Regions from separate parts of the Homo sapiens genome. Here region 2 is linked to region 1. Evidence: fine-mapped expression QTL. A gene starts in region 1. The other region holds a variant in brackets. All regions are shown on one strand. Distances are between the middles of the regions.

Region 1 (9,802 bases):
TTCCTGGGTTCAAGCAACTCTCCTGCCTCAGCCTCCTGAGAAGCTGGGATTACAGGTGTGTGTCACCATGCCTGGCTAATTTTTTGTATTTCAGTAGAAGCAGGGTTTCACCATATTAGCCAGGCTGGTCTCAAACTCCTGACCTCAGATGATCTGCCCACTGTGGCCTCCCAAAGTGCTGGGATTACAGGCGGGAGACACCACACCTGGCCTAAATTTTTTTTTTTTTTAGACGGAGTCTCTGTTGCCCAGGCTGTCGTGCAGTGACACGATCTCAGCTCACTGCAAGCTCCGCCTCCTGGGTTCATGCCATTCTCCTGCCTCAGCCTCCTGAGTAGCTGGGACTACAGGCACCCACCACCACACCCAGCTAATTTTTAAAATTTTGTATTTTTAGTAGAGACGGGGTTTCACCATGTTGGCCAGGCTGGTCTCGAACTCCTCACCTCGTGATCCACTTGCCTCGGCCTCCCAAAGTGCTGGGATTCCAGGTATGAGCCACCATGCCCAGCTTGGGAAGAGGCAATATTAAAAGATATAATAGCTGAGAATTTTCCAGACTTGTACAAAGATGTGACACCTCAGATTTAGGACTCACGAGTTCCAAGAAAGATAAATAAAAGATCCATACCTAGCCACATTGCAGTGAAACTTCATGATACCACAGATAAAGAGATTTTTTTTTTTTTTTAGATGGAGTTTTGCTCTTGTTGCCCAGGCTAGAGTGCAATGGTACGATCTCTGCTCACTGCAACCTCTGCCTCCTGGATTCAAGTGATTCTCCTGCCTTAGCCTCCGAGTAGCTGGTATTACAAGCATGCACCACCATGCCTGGCTAATTTTTTTTGTATTTTTAGTAGAGTCGGGGTTTCTCCAGGTTGGTCAGGCTGGTCTCAAACTCCTGACCTCAGGTGATCCTCCCGCTTCAGCCTCCCAAAATGCTGGGATTACAGGTGTGAGCCACCATGCCCGGCCAAACAGATGATTTTAAATGAAGCCAGAGAAGTTAAATCATATGCAAAGGAATAATTAGACTGACAGCAGACTTTTCAATAGCAACAATGAAAGTCAGGAGACAATGGAATAAAATATTAGAAGTGTGAAACAGTTCTCTCCCTGGCTAAAGTATCATTCAGGAGTGAGAAAAATGTAAGACATTTTATATAACTGAAAGTATCCACTTCTAAAATATCCTTGCTGAAATAAATTTTAAAAGTTCTGCTTCAGGAAGAACATTGAACCCAGAAGGAAGAAGAAAGAGGCAAGAAAAAAGAGTGAACAAAGATAGTGGTAAGCACATTGGTAAATCTAAACAGCATAGATTGTATAAAACAAAAACAATGACTTCAAATATCAGGAGAGAGTCTTAAAAACAAGATGTAACTAAAAAGAACAATAATTACACACAAGACAGAAGGGGAAGAGTGTGATTAAACTCATATTCAAAAAGCTTTCTATCATTTGCGAGAAGATCAGAAGTAGTAATATTAGATTCTATTAAACCAAATATGTGTGTAAAATTACAGAGTAACCCCCAAATGAATAAAAAAGGAAAGCATAACTTTCAAATCAGTAGATTCATGATTATGATAGAGATTGTCAGACTGGATTCAGCAGCAACAACAAAATCTAGCTACATGCTCTTATATGACACACATCTGAAACATAAATATACACAAAGTTTGAAAGTAAAAGGACAGGAAAAGATATATCAAAGAAATACTTGCCAAAATAAAGTTAGTGTAGCTGCAGCAATATCAAACAAAATGGATTATAGACAAAGACTATTATTAGGGATAGTGTTACTTTCTAATAATAGAATGAACAATTCTCCAGGAAAATACTACAATTCTAAATTTGTAAGCACACAGCCTCCAAACACATGAAGCGAAAATTCTCACAAATTCAGGGAGAAATTGACAAATGCACAAACTTGATATGAGATTTTAACACCTCTTTAGTAACTGATAGTTCCAAATGCAAAAAGATGATAAACTATAGAAGGCATAAACCACATGATTGATAAGCTTGATTTTACAGCTCTAACTAGATCCTACACCAATATTAGAATATATGTACTCTTTTAGGCAAACATGGAACATTTTCAAACATCTATTGCACACTTGGCCACAAAGCAGTCTCAGAAAATTCTAAAAAATCAACATCACTTACTACATTCTCTGACTATAAGGCAAAACTCAAAAACAAAATAACTCATAAAAAGATTCGTATTTGGAAATTAAAAAGTACTTTTAAATAATCTCATGGATGGAAAAAGAAATAATAATGAAAATCAGAAAATATTTTAAAGTTGCAGCCATTTTCACATGGAGGACTGGCCAGCACAATTTGCCTTTAGATTCATTTGGGAAAAGTGCCGACTAGTTCACCAAAAGTCAATTCACAGAATGACCAGATAGCCAAAAGCCAAATATGGTAAAAGCTAAACCACTGAATATCAACTTGCTAAACAACCAATCTGAATTATTGAAATTTTTTTTTTTTTTTTTTGAGACAGGGTCTTGCTCTGTCACCCAGGCTGGAGTGCTGTGGTGTGATCTTGGCTCACTGCAACCCCCCTCTGCCTCCTGGGCTCAAGAGATTCTCCCACCTCAGCCTTCCAAGCAGCTGGGACTACAGGGGTACACCACTGCACCTGGCTAATTTTTGCATTTTTTGTAGAGATGGGGTTTCATCATGTTGCCTAGGCTGGTTTGGAACTCCCAGGCCCAAGCAATTCACCAGCCTTGGCCTCCCAAAGTGCTGGGATTACAGGTGTGAGCCACCGTGCCTGGCCCCAGCCAAGGAATTTTTAAAGATGTGTTTCAGCTCCACTCCTGCCTTTGTCTGTGTCCAGAGCCATCCAATAAACCTGGTTCAGGACAGGTCTTCACAACTATTTTTTAACGCACACACACGGGCTGAGGTAAATACAGGTCTACAGGGTCAAAGGCGCAACTAAAATTTGGGGGATAGGGGTGCCAGGAAGTGTCTCCATAATTTAAATAATTGGCCATGCAGCAAATTTCATGTTGGTGAACTGCTTTTAGCGACTGATGGTCCACAAATGGGGCAGGAAGCCTAGCCAGGAAGTGGACGTTTGAGTCAAAGAGGTGCCAAGAATCTGCACAGCTTAAAACAAAGGTGCATCTTACTTGGATAGAGATTTCTTTCTACAGGTGTTTAAGTTTAAGGCAGGGGTCCCCAGTCCCTGGGCTATGGACCAGTACCAGTCCTGGCCTGTTAGGAGCTGGGCAGTGCAGCAGGAGGTGAGCTGCGGGCAAGCCAGGGAAAGCTTTATCTGTAGTTACAGCCACTCCCCCTTGCTCGCATTACCCCTGAGCTCTGCCTCCTGTCAGATCTGCAGGTGCTGGATTCTCATAGGAGCCAGAACCCTGTTGTGAATGCGGGATCCAGGTTGCGGGCTCCTTAGGAGAATCTAATGCCTGGTGATCTGAGTTGGAACAGTTTCATCCCAAAACAACCCCCCTCCCAGTCCATGCAAAAATTCCCTTCCACAAAACCGGGCTCTGGCCCAAAAGGTTGGGGACCCCTGATTTAGGGGGTTTTAACGTTTAGGGATCCCGGGCCGGAGGGTGGGCGGTGGAGAGGAGCTGGGAGCAGGAACACATTACTGTAAGGAGCCCGCCTCACCTCGGCACGGAGGTGGGACCCGGCCTAAAGCCCAGGAGGCGACTTACCCTGAGGGCTGTGGCCTGTAGGGCTCTTGAAAAGTTGGACTTTTAAGTTTTCCCTTTCCGCGAGGTGGGGCCTTGTGATATCTTCAAATCCTTGTTCAGCAGGCTGCGCACACGCCGGTCCTGTGTCTAAGGTGTCTCGGGTATGACCGAGGGGGCTTTGCCCGAGTGGGCGTGCGCCTTTCCTCGGAGGCCGGGACGAGGGGTTGTCGGCATCGTACCCGAGTCCGTGATCATGGCCGGCGCGGCTGCAAGGGCCAGCCCCGGGCGACTGGGCGAGGAATTCCCTTTCCTTCCCTCCGATATTGCCCAGGCAGAGCGCTGTCTGGGCCGCAAGGTCTGGACGGGGCTTCCAAACTCAGAGCAGAGTCTCCTCTGCGTGGGACCACAGCCTCCCCTTCCCCTCCAAGCTTCTGTCTGGCACAGCAGGCTTAGCCCCGCAGGCCCCCTTCCAGCAGCCTTCTATAAAAATGACGGGGTCCTTCTCCAGACAGGAAAACCAGGCTCGCTGCGCCTCGCCCGCACCCCCGGAGCGCTCTCGCAGCGCCCGCCCAGACCAGGCCTTCGAACTCGTGAAGCGCAGGGGGAGGCAGAGGAGAGTGGGCCGCGCTTCCTTCCCGCATCACACGTTTATTTGAGGCCTACTATGTGCCAGGAACAACTGGGGTTACCACCCCAGCAAACAGGCACGCAAAATGTGACACGAAGGTAGGTCATGGCTGCGGCGAGCGGGGGCGCGGGCGAAAGACGTGAGGATGTACGGGGGCCTGGCAGCTGCTCTGTCCCACCCACGCCCGGCCGGACCCTCGACCCCTTTCACTCCAGGTCGGGTTTCCCCGACCGCGGCCTCTGGGAAAGATGGGTCCCTCTTCATCCCCACCATCAGCCCCTGGCACATGGGACGCGCTGAGTGGTGGCTGCGGGAATGAATGAGTGATAAGCGGCGCGTACCCGCGGGCTTGCACGCCCACAGCCGCCCCGGCTGGTCTCGGCGCGCAACCTCTACCCGCAGCTGGGGGCGGGGACGAGGGGAGGGGGCGGGGACGAGGCCCGAGCCAGGTCCGCCCCGCCCTGTCTCCGCCCCCCGCTTCCGAGCCGGCGCCGCGGCGCCTTCTGGGAAGTGTAGTCCGCGTCTGCGCCGGCCGGCCGGGCCGCCGAAGCCGGGGGCTCCGGGCGGAAACGGCACCACCCACCAAGGGATGCGAGGCGCTCGGGGCGGGCTCAACGAGGCCGGGGGCGGGCCCGGGCGCGCCCACCCCCGCCCCTCCCCCTCGGCCCAGGCCCCCGGCCCCGCCTTCTCCTGCGCGGACCTGGGCCGCCGCCGACGAGGGTCGCGTGCGCCCGCGCCAGGGCCCGCGCCGGAAACCGAGGAGTGGCGGGGAGGCTGAGCCCGGGGATGGCGCGCCAGGTAAGGCAGGCGGACGCGCGGACCCCTCGGCGCAGTGCGGCCCCGAAGGCGGTAGGGCGAGAAAGAGCTGGGACCCCCCCGCAACTTCGGGATCGGCTGGGTGAGGCTGGGCAGGCCTGATGCTCAGGGGTTCGTGCCGGGAAGTTCAGGTCCTCGGACAACCTCTCTCCAGCTCTCCGCCGCCGGTACCCACGGCCCAGTCTCCACCTGGGGAAACCCCCTTGGCGTGGCTTGTTTCGTTACAAGTTATCCTGGTAGAGTGGGCATGAAGGCCTCGGAGGCAGTGAGTAAATCTCATACTTCTGTTCTTGGTGGAATCCTGGATCCCGGGGGCTGGGGACGTGGAAATGGGGAGAAACAAAGATAGAACAAACCCCAAGTTTTGTCTTGGGAAGCCTGCAGGTAAGGCGTTTAGATCTGAGAACTGGAGGGAGAGCCCCAGGCCGTGACAGCCTGGGCACCGTTTGGGCTAGGTTGTGTGTGGGCTGTGACGATGCTGGGAAACTCTGGTGCTGATATCAGTGAGGTATCAGGTATCTGGTGCTGATACCAGCAACTGCTCCACGTTCTTCTGGATGGGCACCTGGAGCCAGTTCTGCAACCGTGGTGGCTCCTGAGCTTTGGCCAGTCCGAGGCAGCCATGGATGGGGGGCAGCGTGTGACTAGGCAGAGCAAACACTGTGCCAGGCCCTTGGCGTCATTAGTGCCCCCAAGCATTTGGGGAGAAGGGAGAGGCTAGGCAAATTGGATGTTGTTGGGCAGGGACAGTCAAGTGTCCTTTTCAGGTCTGGCTGCACAGTTAAGTAGCCTAGGGACACCCTGGTTCAGACATGCCCATGGCCCCATCCTAAGGCCTCCTCATACCACAGTTTCCTGTTCTGTAAAGTGAGGAGTTTGGGCCATTGACCTTTCAGATCTGATGAGGGGAATATCCTCACACTACGTAGCTTCATGGAGAAGGTGGCCAGGAGTGACCTTGGGGAGTGGTAGGTCACTGTAAGGTGGAGAGGAGCAGGGAGGGTTCCCAGAAGCCCAGGGCAATGTGAGCACAGCCTCCAGGTTGAGAGGTCCTGTGGCAGGGTCTGATCAGGGAGCCCGAGCCTGAGGCCCACTGGGAGAGCAGGTCTAGGTTGGGAAGGACTGTGAGAGAGGGGCAGGTCCAGCAGGCACTGAAGCTGCAGTTTTTGTGCTGGGCTAGTGACACGGTGGAAGGGTGATGTTAGGAGGACCAGTGTGCAGCTATGAGCTAGGAGGCTGCCCAGTTACAAGAGTCCTGGGTCAGCCCAGAAAGCTTTTCTCCATTGGTTGGGGGAAGGAGGTGAAGTGGGGCCCGAGGAGGAAGGCCGGTGGTGTGTGGGCAGAGCCAGCCAGTGGTGGCCTTCCTCCTCCCGAAGATGAGTTTTGTAGCCCAGGTGTTTGCACACTCACACTTGCTCACTCCCTCACACACAAAACCCTCACTCTTTGCTTTTTCTGGGGAGAGGGAGGCCACTGGCAGAAGCGCCTACCCTGGCCACAGTCAGTTCCCATTCTCATTTTCTAAGAATTTTATCACAAAACAGTTTGTCTTGAGGCTGAGATGGTGAGAGGCCTGGAAAGCATCTCTTACAGATTCCTGGAAGAGCTGGGATATATTTAGTCTGGAGCGAGAGAGACACCGGTGGTCAGGAGCAGTATGTGGAAGAGCTCAGCTGGCAGGCTCAGACCTGCAAGCGGGCATTAGGCAGACAGGTCTGGCTGCAGTATTACTAATCATAGCACTTAATATTCATAGTCCCCGCATTTGTTCTAGGCACTATTCCTGTATTTGTTTTGTCTTCACAATACCTCTATGAGGTAGGTTGTTATGATCCCAGTATTACAGATGAGTTCACTGAGGCCCAAATAGGTTAGGTTTGGCTGAGGTCTCATAACTAGTATGAAACAAGGCAGGGATTGGAATTCTGGCAGCCTGGCTCCTGAGGCTAGGCCCCAGTCACCGTGCTCTGCCCCGGTCTCTGGGTCCGGAACCTCTTAATGGCCACATCAGGTCAGCAGTGGTACCAGTGCAACCAACATAGCTGGTATCATGTTCTTACCTAGAGCTCAGACCTGCCTTGCCAGCTCTGTGTTGAGCCATCAGAATGTCATGTGGGAACCCTCTGCCTGCCATGAACCAAAATTCCAGACTCCCAGAAGGAAAGCAGGGGTGTGGCACACACCACGTCATTTGCTCAGCCTAGGCACCTTGAGCCACTCCCATCATTTAGGGAATGGTGGGAAGCCTCCTGACACCTAAATACCTGGAAGCCAGCCTGAGCCCTCCTGGCAAGCAGGCCTTCCTAAGGACAGCGGTCTAGGGCTGCTCTGCACGCTCTTCTGCATAGACCCTGATGTTGGCTACATTTTCTCTGTTCCAAGATGCTAGGAAGAAATGTAAATAACTCTTTGAGAGAAGTTTTGGAGGGTGTCTGAGACTGTTCCTGAGAGGGAGTGACCATACCTGGGCCAGAGCCACAGAGGTTTGCTCAGGGAGAGTCTGCACATCGAGGCAGGAGGCAAAGGCTGCAGCATCTCACTGCCCATCAGCCTCTGGGCCTCCGGGCCTCAGGCAGGCAGTCACGGGAGGGGCTGCCCCTTGCCAGGGGTGTAGATGCAGCCTGGCCAGAGGGGAGCACTGGTAAGTGTGACTGCATGGGACAAGTTATCAGCTGTTCAGGGAGAACAGGCAGAGAGCCCGGCAGTAAGTGGACAACAAGGCTGCCGGTTAGTGGCAGGGACAGTTTTTTGTTTTTCTTGAAACAGGGGCTGGAGTACAATGTTGTGACCTTGGCACACTGCAAATTCTGCCTTCCAGGTTCTCCTGCCTCAGCCTCCCAAGTAGCTGTGATTACAGACACCCACCACCATGCCTGGCTAATTTTTGTATTTTATTAGAGATGGGGTTTCACCATGTTGGCCAGGCTGGTCTTGAACTCCTGACCTCAGGTGATCCACCCACCTGGGCCTCCCAAAGTGCTGGGATTACAGGCGTGAACCATCACACCCAGCCTGGGACAGTTTTTAGAATCACTGACTTGGGTGGGTGCAGGGGCTCACGCCTGTAATCCTAGCACTTTGGGAGACCAATGTGGGAGAACCACTTGAGCCCAGGAGTTCAAGACTGGCCTGGGCAACATAGTAAGGTCCTGTCTTTTTTAATTAATTAATTAAAATAACTGCCCTGAGCAGATGAAACAAGCGGTGAATTGTCTTTGCTTTATTAGGGGCGTGTTCATTTTCTTTAATAATTTGTTCTCACAAATAAACAGTTTAACATTCATTTCTCAACAGGAAGGACCCTTCCCATAATTTACCTTCTGTTTGCTTAATTTGCACAGTTAATTTTTGCCATAATTTTAAATTCAAGCCTATTGATGCTGGTCATTTTCTAGTGTCTGATGGCCACTTTAAAGTCCACTGAAGGACTTTTTTTTTTTTTTTTTTTTTTTGAGATGGAGTCTCGCCATATTGCCCAGACTGGAGTGCAATGGCGTGATCTCGGCTCACTGCAACCTCTGCCTTCCGAGGTCAAGCAATTCTCCTGCCTCAGCCTCCTGAGTAGCTGAGATTACAGGCGCCCACCACCACACCTAATTTTTGCATTTTTAGTAGAGACAAGGTTTCACCATATTGGCCAGCCTGGTCTCGAACTCCTGATCTCAGGTGATCTGTCTGCCTTGGCCCCCCGAAGTGCTGGGATTACAGGCGTGAGCCACCACACCCAGCCGAAGGATTATTTTGTAAAGAAACATAGACAAAAATGCTCGTGTTATTTTAAAAAGCCACAGGGTAGGAGGAGATGAGTACAGAGAATAGGAGATAGGAGTACAGGGTGTAAAGGAGCCTGGTGACCCAAAGCTTCCAAGGGCAACCCCAGGTTTCTTCTGAGCACTTCTCTAAACCCAGCACACAAACTAGGTGGACAGCAAGAATGTCTTCTCTCACAGCCCTGCAGACCCGAAGCCCTACGTCACAGTGTGGGCAGGCCACACTCCCTCTGAAGGCTCTGGGCCAGGATCCTTCTTGCCTCTTGTGGCTTCTGGTGGCCCTGGGCATTCCTTGGCTTGTGGCTGCATGACTGTAGTCTCTGCCTGTCTTCACACAGCTTTCTTCTTTTGTGTCTGTCTCTGTGTCTCTTCTGATAAGGAATGAGTCATACTGGACTAAGGGTCCCCCCTACTTAGGAGTATGACCTCATCTTAAGTAATTCCATCTGCAGGGACTCTGTTTCTAAATAAGGTCCTACTTACAGGCGTGAGGGTTAGGACTTCAGCGTGTCTCTGCAGAGACACAGCTCACCCCCAGCACTGTCTCTTGAGGGGATTCCTGCATGTCAGACCCTGGCTATTATCCTGGAGTGTGCGCCTGGAGGCCTAGGTGGGGTTACCAAGTGCAGGGACAGCTAGGCTGTCCCCTCTGGGATGGAACAACCAACCCCCCCGGAGACTGTGCCTGCAGGTGTCCATCACCTTCAAGGACTTGGCCGTGCGGTTCTCGGAGGAGGAGTGGCGGCTCCTGGAGGAGGGGCAGAGGGAGTTCTACCGAGACGTGATGCGGGAGAACTACGAGACGCTGGTCTCTGTGGGTAAGGACGGGAGGGAGCAGCACGTGTGGCAGGAGCCTGGTGGGCGGTGGAAGGGAGGCCGGAGTCCCTGGACCCGGCAGCCTTAGTCTT
Region 2 (9,802 bases), 38 kb after region 1:
CTCAAAAAAAAAAAAAAAAAAAAAAAAAGAAAGAAAAGAAATATACTGGCTCAATGAAGTCATGGGAATGATTGCTTCAAGAAGCAGGCAGAATTACAGGGATAAGAGATTTATTGGGAAGTATAGCTCCCATCAGAGGTGAAAAAGGGAGAAAGCAGTCTCAGGCATGATGAGCATCCGACCCCTCTGCAAAGAGAGCTGGGGGCGGGGGGAACAGGATTGTGCAGCTGGAGCCTCAGACCCTGATGCACAAAGTCTCAGACACCCTGACAGAGAGCTCTGGCCCAGAGAGCTTATTCACCGGCTTATTAGACGACTTCCACTTTGGGTAGAAATAGCCCGGCATGGTCACTGGCTGGGGACTTCCTGGGAGGAGCATGGCCTTGGCTCACAAGCTGGGGTGGACCCTGGGTACACTGACAGCAGCCAGCTGTCAGCTCACCATCCTCTTCACAGAGGAGCAGCATTGGGTTTGGAAGGGAAATCCAAGGGTGCATCTCCATGGTTGCCACAGAAACAAGGGATACGGTTTGGCCTAAGGAATGCCAAGAATCTGAGGCTCATCTGATACAAAGACCTTCTTCGCACCTCATTCCTACTTTACTCTGCGGTCAGCTCCATTCTCCCTCACTGAAAACCAATCTCATTCACATGATAAGAAATATGGCCTATGGAAGCTTCCATGTGTTACTTCCTACAGCTTTTGTTACCCAGGAGGGTCTGACTCACACGGTCACTGGTCCAAAGTTCAAAATCCTGGGGAAGGCCAACTGGCCCAGCTTGGGCTGGGTTCCCTCTCCTGGACCAATCACCTGGTGCCAGGGCCAGGACCATGCAGAAATACAGCAGCTCCATCTCACCAAGCAGCTCCATCTCACTGTTTTTTAGAAAAACAGCAGCACTGACTACATACAATTAGATATCTGTTCCAAATGGTCTACACATCTTGTCTCCATTTCCTCACTCCAATTCACCCTTCAGACATTTGCAGTCGAACTTTTGCCACCATCATTCTACTGAAGCAGCTTTCTAAGTGACCGCCCATGAGTTTATAGTTAATAAATCTGATGGTCCTCTTGAACTGTCAATATAACAGTTGCTGACATAGGACTGGCTCTAGCTATTGTGCCCACTGCAGTAGATACTTGGGCCTGACTGTCCAGCCTGGGGGCCAGCATTTCCCTGGGAACTCCCATTTCTTCCATAAACGGGTAGGACATGACATCCATAGGACAACGATCATAGCTGAACAACCCTGGGATCAACTTGACCTTAGCTTAGCTAGATTCTTTCTTCCAGGAGTCTGGAATTGAGAAAGTTAGTCAATTGTTTGAATGACTACACCAGTAACTGGTCAATGTGGAAGCTATGGAGAGGCCACCTTTGCTGTGCTCTATGAGTGAAGAAGCAGGAAAGCTGGTCCACAGAGAAGGAAGGAAGGAATGCACAGAGAAGCAGGGGAGAAAATAGCGCATCTGGTGAGTAACCCTGGAAGAAAGCAGTTGTGTGGGGTACACAGCAGAGCAGAAGCTGAAGCGTGGTCATTTAGAGGGTGCATTGCCCTCATTAGGGAGTCCCTAATGAGGAGCCCCATACAGGGAGCAAGTGACCTAGAAGAACTCAGCAAAGGACCTCATGAGAGACAAAGTCACTATTCCAGCAGCATCCTGCCACACAGAGGACACCTGGGTTGGGTGACAACAACACTGGTCAGATGGGAGGCATTCTCCTTCCCCTCCTTCCTGTCATCCCCCTGGGGGAGCCAACTGGGGCCCAGGGTGTGAGGAAGAGCAGTGAAAGAACAAGATGGAGATCACTGAGACCTGGGCCCCTTTTCCCATCACAGCAGTCCCCAGTGAGATTGGAGAGATGCTTCAGAGTGGATGAGATATAGAAGTTGTGGGTTAGATGGTGCTAGACTTTTTAGTAACTGAAAATGAGACTATTCTAACTTCCAAGATATATTAGGATCCACCAAACATATGGTCCAGGAGTGGGTGTGACCAGAACTTCTCCTGCCCCTGTACACTCACTACCGTGCCATGGGTCTTGGCTGCTGTTCCCACCAAAGACGGTTTTCCCACCTCTTAAACCTTGGGGGGCTTTGTAACTTGATTTGATCAAGAGAATATGGCTGAAGTGACACTGTGTGAGTGCTGCAGCCATGGCTTCAGGAAGCCCTTACAGATTCTGCACCAGCCCCCTTGGAATACAGAGCTGGCATGTCGGAGGCCCGGGTCAGCCTCCTGGAGGAGGAGAGAGAGGCCTAGCCAATAGCTAGCACCAACCACTGGATATGAGAATAGGACCATTTTGGACCACCCAGATCCAGTTGGGCCACAAGAGCCACAAGGTAACTGTACCTGCAAGGAGGAACCCAGGTGAGACCAGCCAAAAACCACTCTGCTGAACCCAGTCCAAACTGCTAACCCACAGAACTGTAAGCAAATAAAAGGTTGTTTTAAGTGGCTCAATTTCGGAGTGATTTGTTACACACAATAAAAAAGTGATATAGCGAAGAAGGCAGATACAACAGAATGGGTTTGAATGCGACGATGAAAGAAGAAAATAAAGTTGTTTCTTGCCACTTCCCAAGTCCAGCTCATTTAATTTACAAGCAATATTTGCAAAAGGCAGATCCGGGCAGCGATGTGAGATTTTTCCCCTGGGTATTCTCAAGTGCCTAAATACCTACTTGGTTTAAAATAGATAATTCTCAGCTGGGCACAGTGGCTCAGGCCTGTAATCTGAGCACTTTGGGAGGCCAAGGCAGACAGATCACTTGAGGTCAAGAGGTTGAGACCAGCCTGACCAACATGGTAAAATCCTGTCTCTACTAAAAATACAGAAAAAAAAAATTAGCCAAGCGTGGTGGCAGGTGCCTGTAATCCCAGCTACCCAGGAGGCTGAGGCAGGAGAATCACTTGAATCCAAGAGGCAGAGGCTGCAGTGAGCCAAGATCGTGCCACTGTGCTCCAGCTTGGGCGACAGAGTGAGACTCTGTCTCAAAAAAAAAAAAAACAAAACAACATAGATAATTCTTATCTCTGGACTCTCCCCTTGTCCCACTCTGCAATGTTTCCCTTCGGACATCTCCTCACAGAGCTGTGGAAAGCTCAGAAGGCCCCTCTCTGAAGCCTGACTGCTGGTCACCAGCATTGGCCCTCAGAAGGCTGCTGCCAATCAGGGCTGAGGAGAAGCCGTGACCTTCACTGGGAATAGAAGTGGGGGCGAGGGGTGAGCAAGCTCTGCTTTCTTTCCTGAAACAGCAAAATGAGACAAGTGTGTGCACGCTGTGCTGCTGCAGCTGCGAAATGAAAAGCTTCTCATTAGCATCCTTTGCACAGGGGTAGGGGTGGGGGATAACTCAGGGACAGCTCTCAGAGTGCAGAGCTGGGGCTTCTGTTCCCAACCCAGGCCCCCGGCAGGCCCCCTAGGTGTGTCATCTGCCTCCAGCCCAGCTAGGCAAGTGTGCTTCCATCTGGGTTGGGGAGAGGGATGGGTGGAAGTCTCCTGTGGGGTAATTGTGAGTCCTGATCTGGTCCCAGAATGTGAGCCCACCTTAGTTGTGGGACCCTGGGACCTCCACCCTCCCCAGCCCGCTGAGCAGGGAGGGGCATGCAGAGCTGGGTGGAGGGGAAGCAGGTTCCTCTGGCCACACAGGCTCTTCCTGTGCCAGGGGCAGCCCAGGCACAAGATGACAAGGAGAACCGGAAACTAGCCAGCAGGGCCTGCCCTGCAAAATCATGGATTTCCTCTTTCCCTCCCTCCCACCCTTCAGGCCCCAGCAGAACCTCTCTCCTCCAGGCCTCCGTTCTGTCATGCAGGATGAGAGCAGAGGTTCTTAAACCAGCTCTGCGGACCATGTGGGCCCACAGAGGGGCTTAAAGAGGGTGTCCACATACCCTCTAAAATTACGTGCAAATCATTGTTTCTATGCACATTACTCTGAAGGGAGCTTTAAACAACTAAATGCTTGGTGGTTTGCTAAAGGTTAGGAACCGACAGCCTAGAAAATTCTCAGGCCTCTCCAACACTGACATTCCTGCTTTCCCCTTTCTGTCTGCTTTCCTGAGTGTGGTTCTCAGCTCTCTTCTTAGTTCAGGTAGCTCTCTTCTCATCTAATACATATACTTTGCAGTAACGGCCAACGAAGGTGGTATATTACAGTGAGGCTTTAAATGGGACATGCAGAGTATGTGAAACATACCAGATATCTAACTCACATAATTGCATTTGAGCAGTAAGTTTAGCTTTAACCATCTCAGCAGCCACATGAAAAAATAGATCGCTGAATTTATTAACTTTGGGATTTGTGTTTGCTGTCACCCTGTCTTAGTTCACAGCTATAACTCTGCAGGGGTGGATTTTAGGCACTCAGATTATCCGGTAGGGGAGGGATTTTGAGATGGGTAGGCCTTGTAAAGGCTCCTCTTCCACCTGTACAATTCAACATACGTGTTGTGAGTGTTCAAATGTGCCAGGTCCTGGAAATACCAAGACAAAAAAACACGACTTCCGCCCTCGAGATGTTCCCAGTGGGCCTGGAGAGATGAGGCTCCTACAAGGGTGTAACCTTTCTAAACCCCGGTTTCCTTACCTGAGAAGTGAGGACAGCAACCCCGTACCAAAGGGGGCTTAGGGGAATTAAGTAGGAGCCTCAGTCACAGGAGGCACTCACACATTTTAGGCACACGCGGACACACCCAACAACTGCAGGCGACATCTGGTAAGGTGGGAAGCAGAGGAACCATGACAGCTTAAAGGAGGAGATTGTTGTGTGCTGGGATCATTGGGGAAGGACACCCCCAGGAGGTGGCCCCCATCTGTGCTCGAAAAATAGGTAGGATTTAAAAGGGAAGTCAGGGCAGTAGGCACTTTGTGATGGGGAAGCCCAGGGAGGCCGGGGCAGGAGGCAGGAAGGACCACACGGCCCGGAGACAGGAACAAGACCGCTTGGTGTAAGGGAGGGTGTGTACCCAGGAGGTTTGGAAAATAAGTTTCAAAAGTTTGTTGGGGCCAACTGTAGAGAGCCTTGAGTTAGAACAGACATGTATTGCACACTGGCTAGGTGGGCACTCTGCTCTGTGCCAGGGAAGCTTGCCACCCCCAGAGGGACACACAGAATAATGTGGCACAATGTGTCAACCGCTAAGGCCTCTGGATATTCAGATGAGCAGAAGTTTCTAAGCTGGGGCGTAATAAGTTATAAGGAAGATCAGCCTGACAGTTGGAGGATAGATGGGGAAGCAGGAGTTGGGGAGAAGTCAGAGGGGGACCTGATAGGAGAAGGTTGCCCACTGGCCTGGGCTTGGGGGGACAGTACTGGGAGGGTCAGGGGCAGCAGGGGCAGCAGGGCAGGCATCTGCAAAGGATGAGCGTGCTATGACGCGAGCTCCATCATTCTGGAGAAAGAGGATCCTGAGGCCTTAGGAGTTCTCCTGGAAGCCCCACAGTGAAATCTCAAGAGAGAAAATCCCAGCGAGGACAGGGACACTGGGCCCACGGGAATCCTGTCTTGCTGGGCCGGAGGGGAGCCCTGGGTCTGGCTCCTGTAGAGCCTGAAATAGAATCCGATTTGCGATGCCCCTAATGATGTTATGTAATGACATTGCATAAGCCCGTTACGTAAATCAAAGTCCTGCTATTGACCA[A/G]GAATGTCCCCTGCCCCAAGGCTGACCTAATCCCACGCCTGAAGGCTCAGTCCTTTGTGGCAGTTGGATAAATCTGTTTCCTAAAGCCTCTGTGAAACCCTCCCGACCTTAAAGTCTCTGTCTTTAGGGTTCCTGGGGCCTCCTTCTCCGTTGCTGCTTCTCCACTGTGGGAGGCCTCAGTGTGACACTCACTCATCCTTCCCCAGGTGAGGGTTCCCAGGGAAGGACAGGATTCCAGTCCTTCCACCAGCGTGGAATTGTGGCCGTGCGCCCTCTTCTGGGGGTCTTGCATACTCCCTCTGACTGTGAAATACAAGACTTGTCTCTGGTTAAAAGACATTTCAAGGATCAGTAAGTGAGTGAAGAAGTTTTCTTCCCTGTGGGGCATGGGTGGCCTCCCCAGGACCCTGGAGTTAACAACTACGAGCAGGTTCTTGAGTCCCAGGAGCAGAAAGAATCTTTCACTACTGGAAACCAGCATGTCCCGTGAACGCACTCACCAACCTGTCTGCCTTCAGTCGGCCCATCTGTCTCCCTGAACATACTAGCAGAAGCCCTCCCACCCTCAACCCACCTCGCCAACCCCCACCCCGGCTCCCCTTCAAGCCCTCTCCCCAGCATAGGCAACATCTTCCTCGGGAGGCTGTCTCCTTCCTTCATCTATGTCTCTCTACAAGTAAATCCTGGTGTGCACACCACCACCCCCGACACATAAACACAGTTTACAGAAACACCAAACAAAACAGTCATGTTTGATGGAAAAAGGCTGAGTTCCCAGTTGCTCTTAGTGTCTCCTAAAAGTCAACTGTTTACTGTCCTATCAAAGCTATTTTACTGTTATAGGACTAGGAAAAATTTAAATTTAAAAATCACACGAAGAATAAAGTAACACAAAGCAAAACTGTTTATGTTTTATCTTTTTTTTTTTTTTTTTCAGACAAGTTCTTGCTCTGTCACCCGGGCTGGAGTGCAGTGATACAATCTTGGTTTACTGTAACCTCAAACTCCTGGGCTCAAGGCATCCTCCTACCTCAGCCTCTTGAGTCACTAGGACTACAGGCCTGCTACCATGCCTGGGTAATTAAATTTTTTTTTTTTTTTAGAAATGGAGTCTCCCTATGTTGCCCAGGCTGGTCTTGAACTCTTGGCCTCAAGTGATTCTCCCACCTCGGCCTCCCAAAGTGCTGGGATTACAGGTGTCAGCCACAGTGCCCAGCCTCTTTTGGCTTTTTTGAATGATATGACACATCTCCAAAACATAGCACAGGGTGGATCCAAGAGCTCCTGGGGTAAGAGCTGCCTGGACCCACAGGTCCACTCTCATGGGCTCTGATTAGAGCTGCACTGCCCCATTCCCTCCCAATACCAGGAGCCCTCATTTCAGCCTCAGCTCCCCCAACTTTGACACAGTATTTTACTCAAGGTCTCTGTTATGAATTGAATTGCGCCCCCCAAGAAGTCCAAAAAGTTGTGTTGAAGTCCTAGCCCTGGCCCCAACCTATGAATATAGCCTCTTGAAAATAGGATCTTTGCGGATAAAATCAGGATGAGGTCATTAGGGTGGGCCGTTCTCCAATATGACTGTTGTCCTTATAGGAAGAGGAGGGACACAGACATGCCCAGAGTGGAGGAGACCCAGGAAGAAGGTGATGGGAGGATGGAGGTAGAGATTGAAGTGCTGTGTCTATAAGTCAAGAAATGGCCAGGAGAAAGGCCTGGAACAGAGTCTTCCCTTGAGCCTTCAGAGGGAGTGTAACACCTGATTTCACACTCATAGCCTCCAGACCGTGAAGGAATAGATTTCTGCTGTTTTGAAGCTATGCAGTGTGTAGCACTTTGTAAAGGAGGCCTCAGGAAGCGAACACAGCAGCTTCGGTGAACGCAGTGCCACATGGCACAGCTCCCCCCTTGCCTGTGTGCAGGGGGCAGCAATGTCAGCAGGACAATTTTCAGGCAATTCACAGAGACTGTGGCTTGGAGTTGGGCCCAGGCTGGCCAGTGTCTTGGGAGTCTGTGAGGCCTCGACCCTCTTCCCAGGTTGCTATCTGCCTGCCCCATAAACACATCCTGAGACTTTGCTACCTTCCTTTCCCCCTTCCTTCCTGGTGTTCTCTCAGAGCTGTACCTGTCTGCACTGCCTGGTCTCCTTGGTACATCACCTGCTTGGACATCAGCCACCCTTTCTCAGTGCCTCGATTCAGGATGCCATAATATATGTTTTCTATGAAAATGAAGCTTCATTCTGCCTGCCGATTCCTACCTATTTTAAATCACAGCTGACATCCACGCCTCAACAAAGATTCCCATAGCTGTAGCTCCATGATTCATGATCGCGTCTAGAAAGGGAACATTTTGCAACAGATAGCCAGGCCCAACTTCCATGGCTTCATGCTTCTTCCCAGGTCTCTGCCACCCAGCACTGTCCTCTCCCAGGAGACAGATGCATGCTAATGCCACGTGTGTGTGTAACAGGTTTCCCGGCTGGCTGGAAGCCTGGTCCCCAGTTGCTTACAGTCTTGGCAAGTTAATTCACCTCCTCAGAGATGCCCTCCTGATCTCCAGGTGTGAGTCCCTGCTCCTTGCTCCTTGTTCCATGATCCTTTGCACATACTTCTCTTACCAACCCACTAGGTCCAACCGCGAGTCTGTGAGTGCCCTGAAGACCTTGAATGTGTGTCCTGAAGACCCCTCTCTGCAAGGGGACAGTGGAGCTTGGTGTTTAAAAGTACAGGTCCTAGGAAAATGCAAACCAAAATCACTCTGAGATGTCGCCTCAAAGCCATGAGGATGGCCAGTATCAAAAACCAGAAAATAACAATTGTTGGCAAGGATGTGGCGTCATTGGAAGCCTCATGCATGGCTGGTGAGAATGTGAAATGGTGCAGATGCTGTGGAAGACAGTATGTCAGCTCCTCAAGAAATTAAAAATAGAATGACCATATGATCCAGCAATTCCATATCTGGGTATATACCCAAAAGAGCTGAAAACAGGCACTCAAACAGACATATGTACACTCCTGTTCACAGCAGCATGATTCACAATACCATAAGGTGGAGGCAACCAAGTGTTCATTGGTGGATGATTGGATAAACAATGTAGTGTAGACATGCAATGGAATATTCAGCCTTAAGAAGGAAGGAAATTCTAAGACCTGCTACAGCATGGATGAACCTTGAGAACATCATGCTAAGTGAAATAAGCCAGTCACAAAAGACAAACACTATGTTATTCCACTTATAGGAGGTCCCTAGAGTAGTCAGATTCATAGAGATAGAAAGTAGAATGATGGTTGCCAGGGATTTGGAGAGGGGAGAATAGGGTTTAATAGGCACAGAGTTTCAGCTTTGCAAGGTGTATTAGTCAGGATTCTCTAGAGAAAGACAACCTTGGGGTGTGTGTATATACATGTAGAAAGAGATTTGTTTTAAGGAATGGGCTCATGTGATTACAGGGGCTGGCAAGTCCAAAATCTATAGGGTGGCTTTGGCTGGCTGGAGACCTAGGGAAGAGCCGATGCTTCTGCTGGCTGAATTCCCTCTTCCTTGGGGGAGGTCAGTCTTCTGTTCTGTTCAACTGATTGGGTAAGGCCTACCCACATTATGGAGGATAATCTGTTTACTCCAAGTCCACCAATTTAAATGTTAATATCATCCATAAACCCTCATATAAACATATAAAGATAATGTTTGGTCACATATCTGGGCACCATGGTCTAGCCAAGTTGACACAGAAAATTAACCATGACACAAGTTGAAAAGAGTTCTGGAGATGGATGGTGGTGATGGTCACATAACGTGAATGTTCTTTATGCCACTAAACTGCAAACTTAAAAATGGTAAAGATGTTACATTTTATGTTCTGTGTATTTTGCCACAATTTAAAATAATGTAATTTTTTAAAAAGCACAAGCTCTAGAGTCAGACCACCAGGTTGCTTTCTTGCGTCACGTATGGCCTCATGTCTGTGCACAGGTCATGGAGACTGTCTGAGTTTCCTTCACCTCATCAGAATAACCAGACTGGGGCGGGCACAGTGGCTCACGCCTGTAATCCAAGCACTTTGGGAGGCAGGCGGATCCGCTTGAGGCCAGGAGTTCAAGACCAGCCTGGCCAACATGGTGAAACCCCGTCTCTACTAAAATACAGAA

What was found.
Region 2: its variant is fine-mapped to the expression of KRABD3 in monocytes (Fairfax 2014, PIP 0.95).

Annotation. Positions count from the first base shown.
Region 1 is chr7:149,709,961-149,719,762 of GRCh38, forward strand. KRABD3 (KRAB domain containing 3) reads left to right here and starts at 4,991. Exons shown (of 17, transcript NM_001290187.2): 1 at 4,991-5,106; 2 at 9,586-9,712. The coding sequence starts at 5,095. RefSeq lists silencers at 3,518-3,812, 4,639-5,078 and enhancers at 4,144-4,643, 5,281-5,913.
Region 2 is chr7:149,747,920-149,757,721 of GRCh38, forward strand. No RefSeq gene overlaps it. Among named protein-coding and RNA genes, the nearest start is that of ZNF467, 21 kb to the right of the region's middle. The variant A/G (reference allele first, on the strand shown) is at 5,655.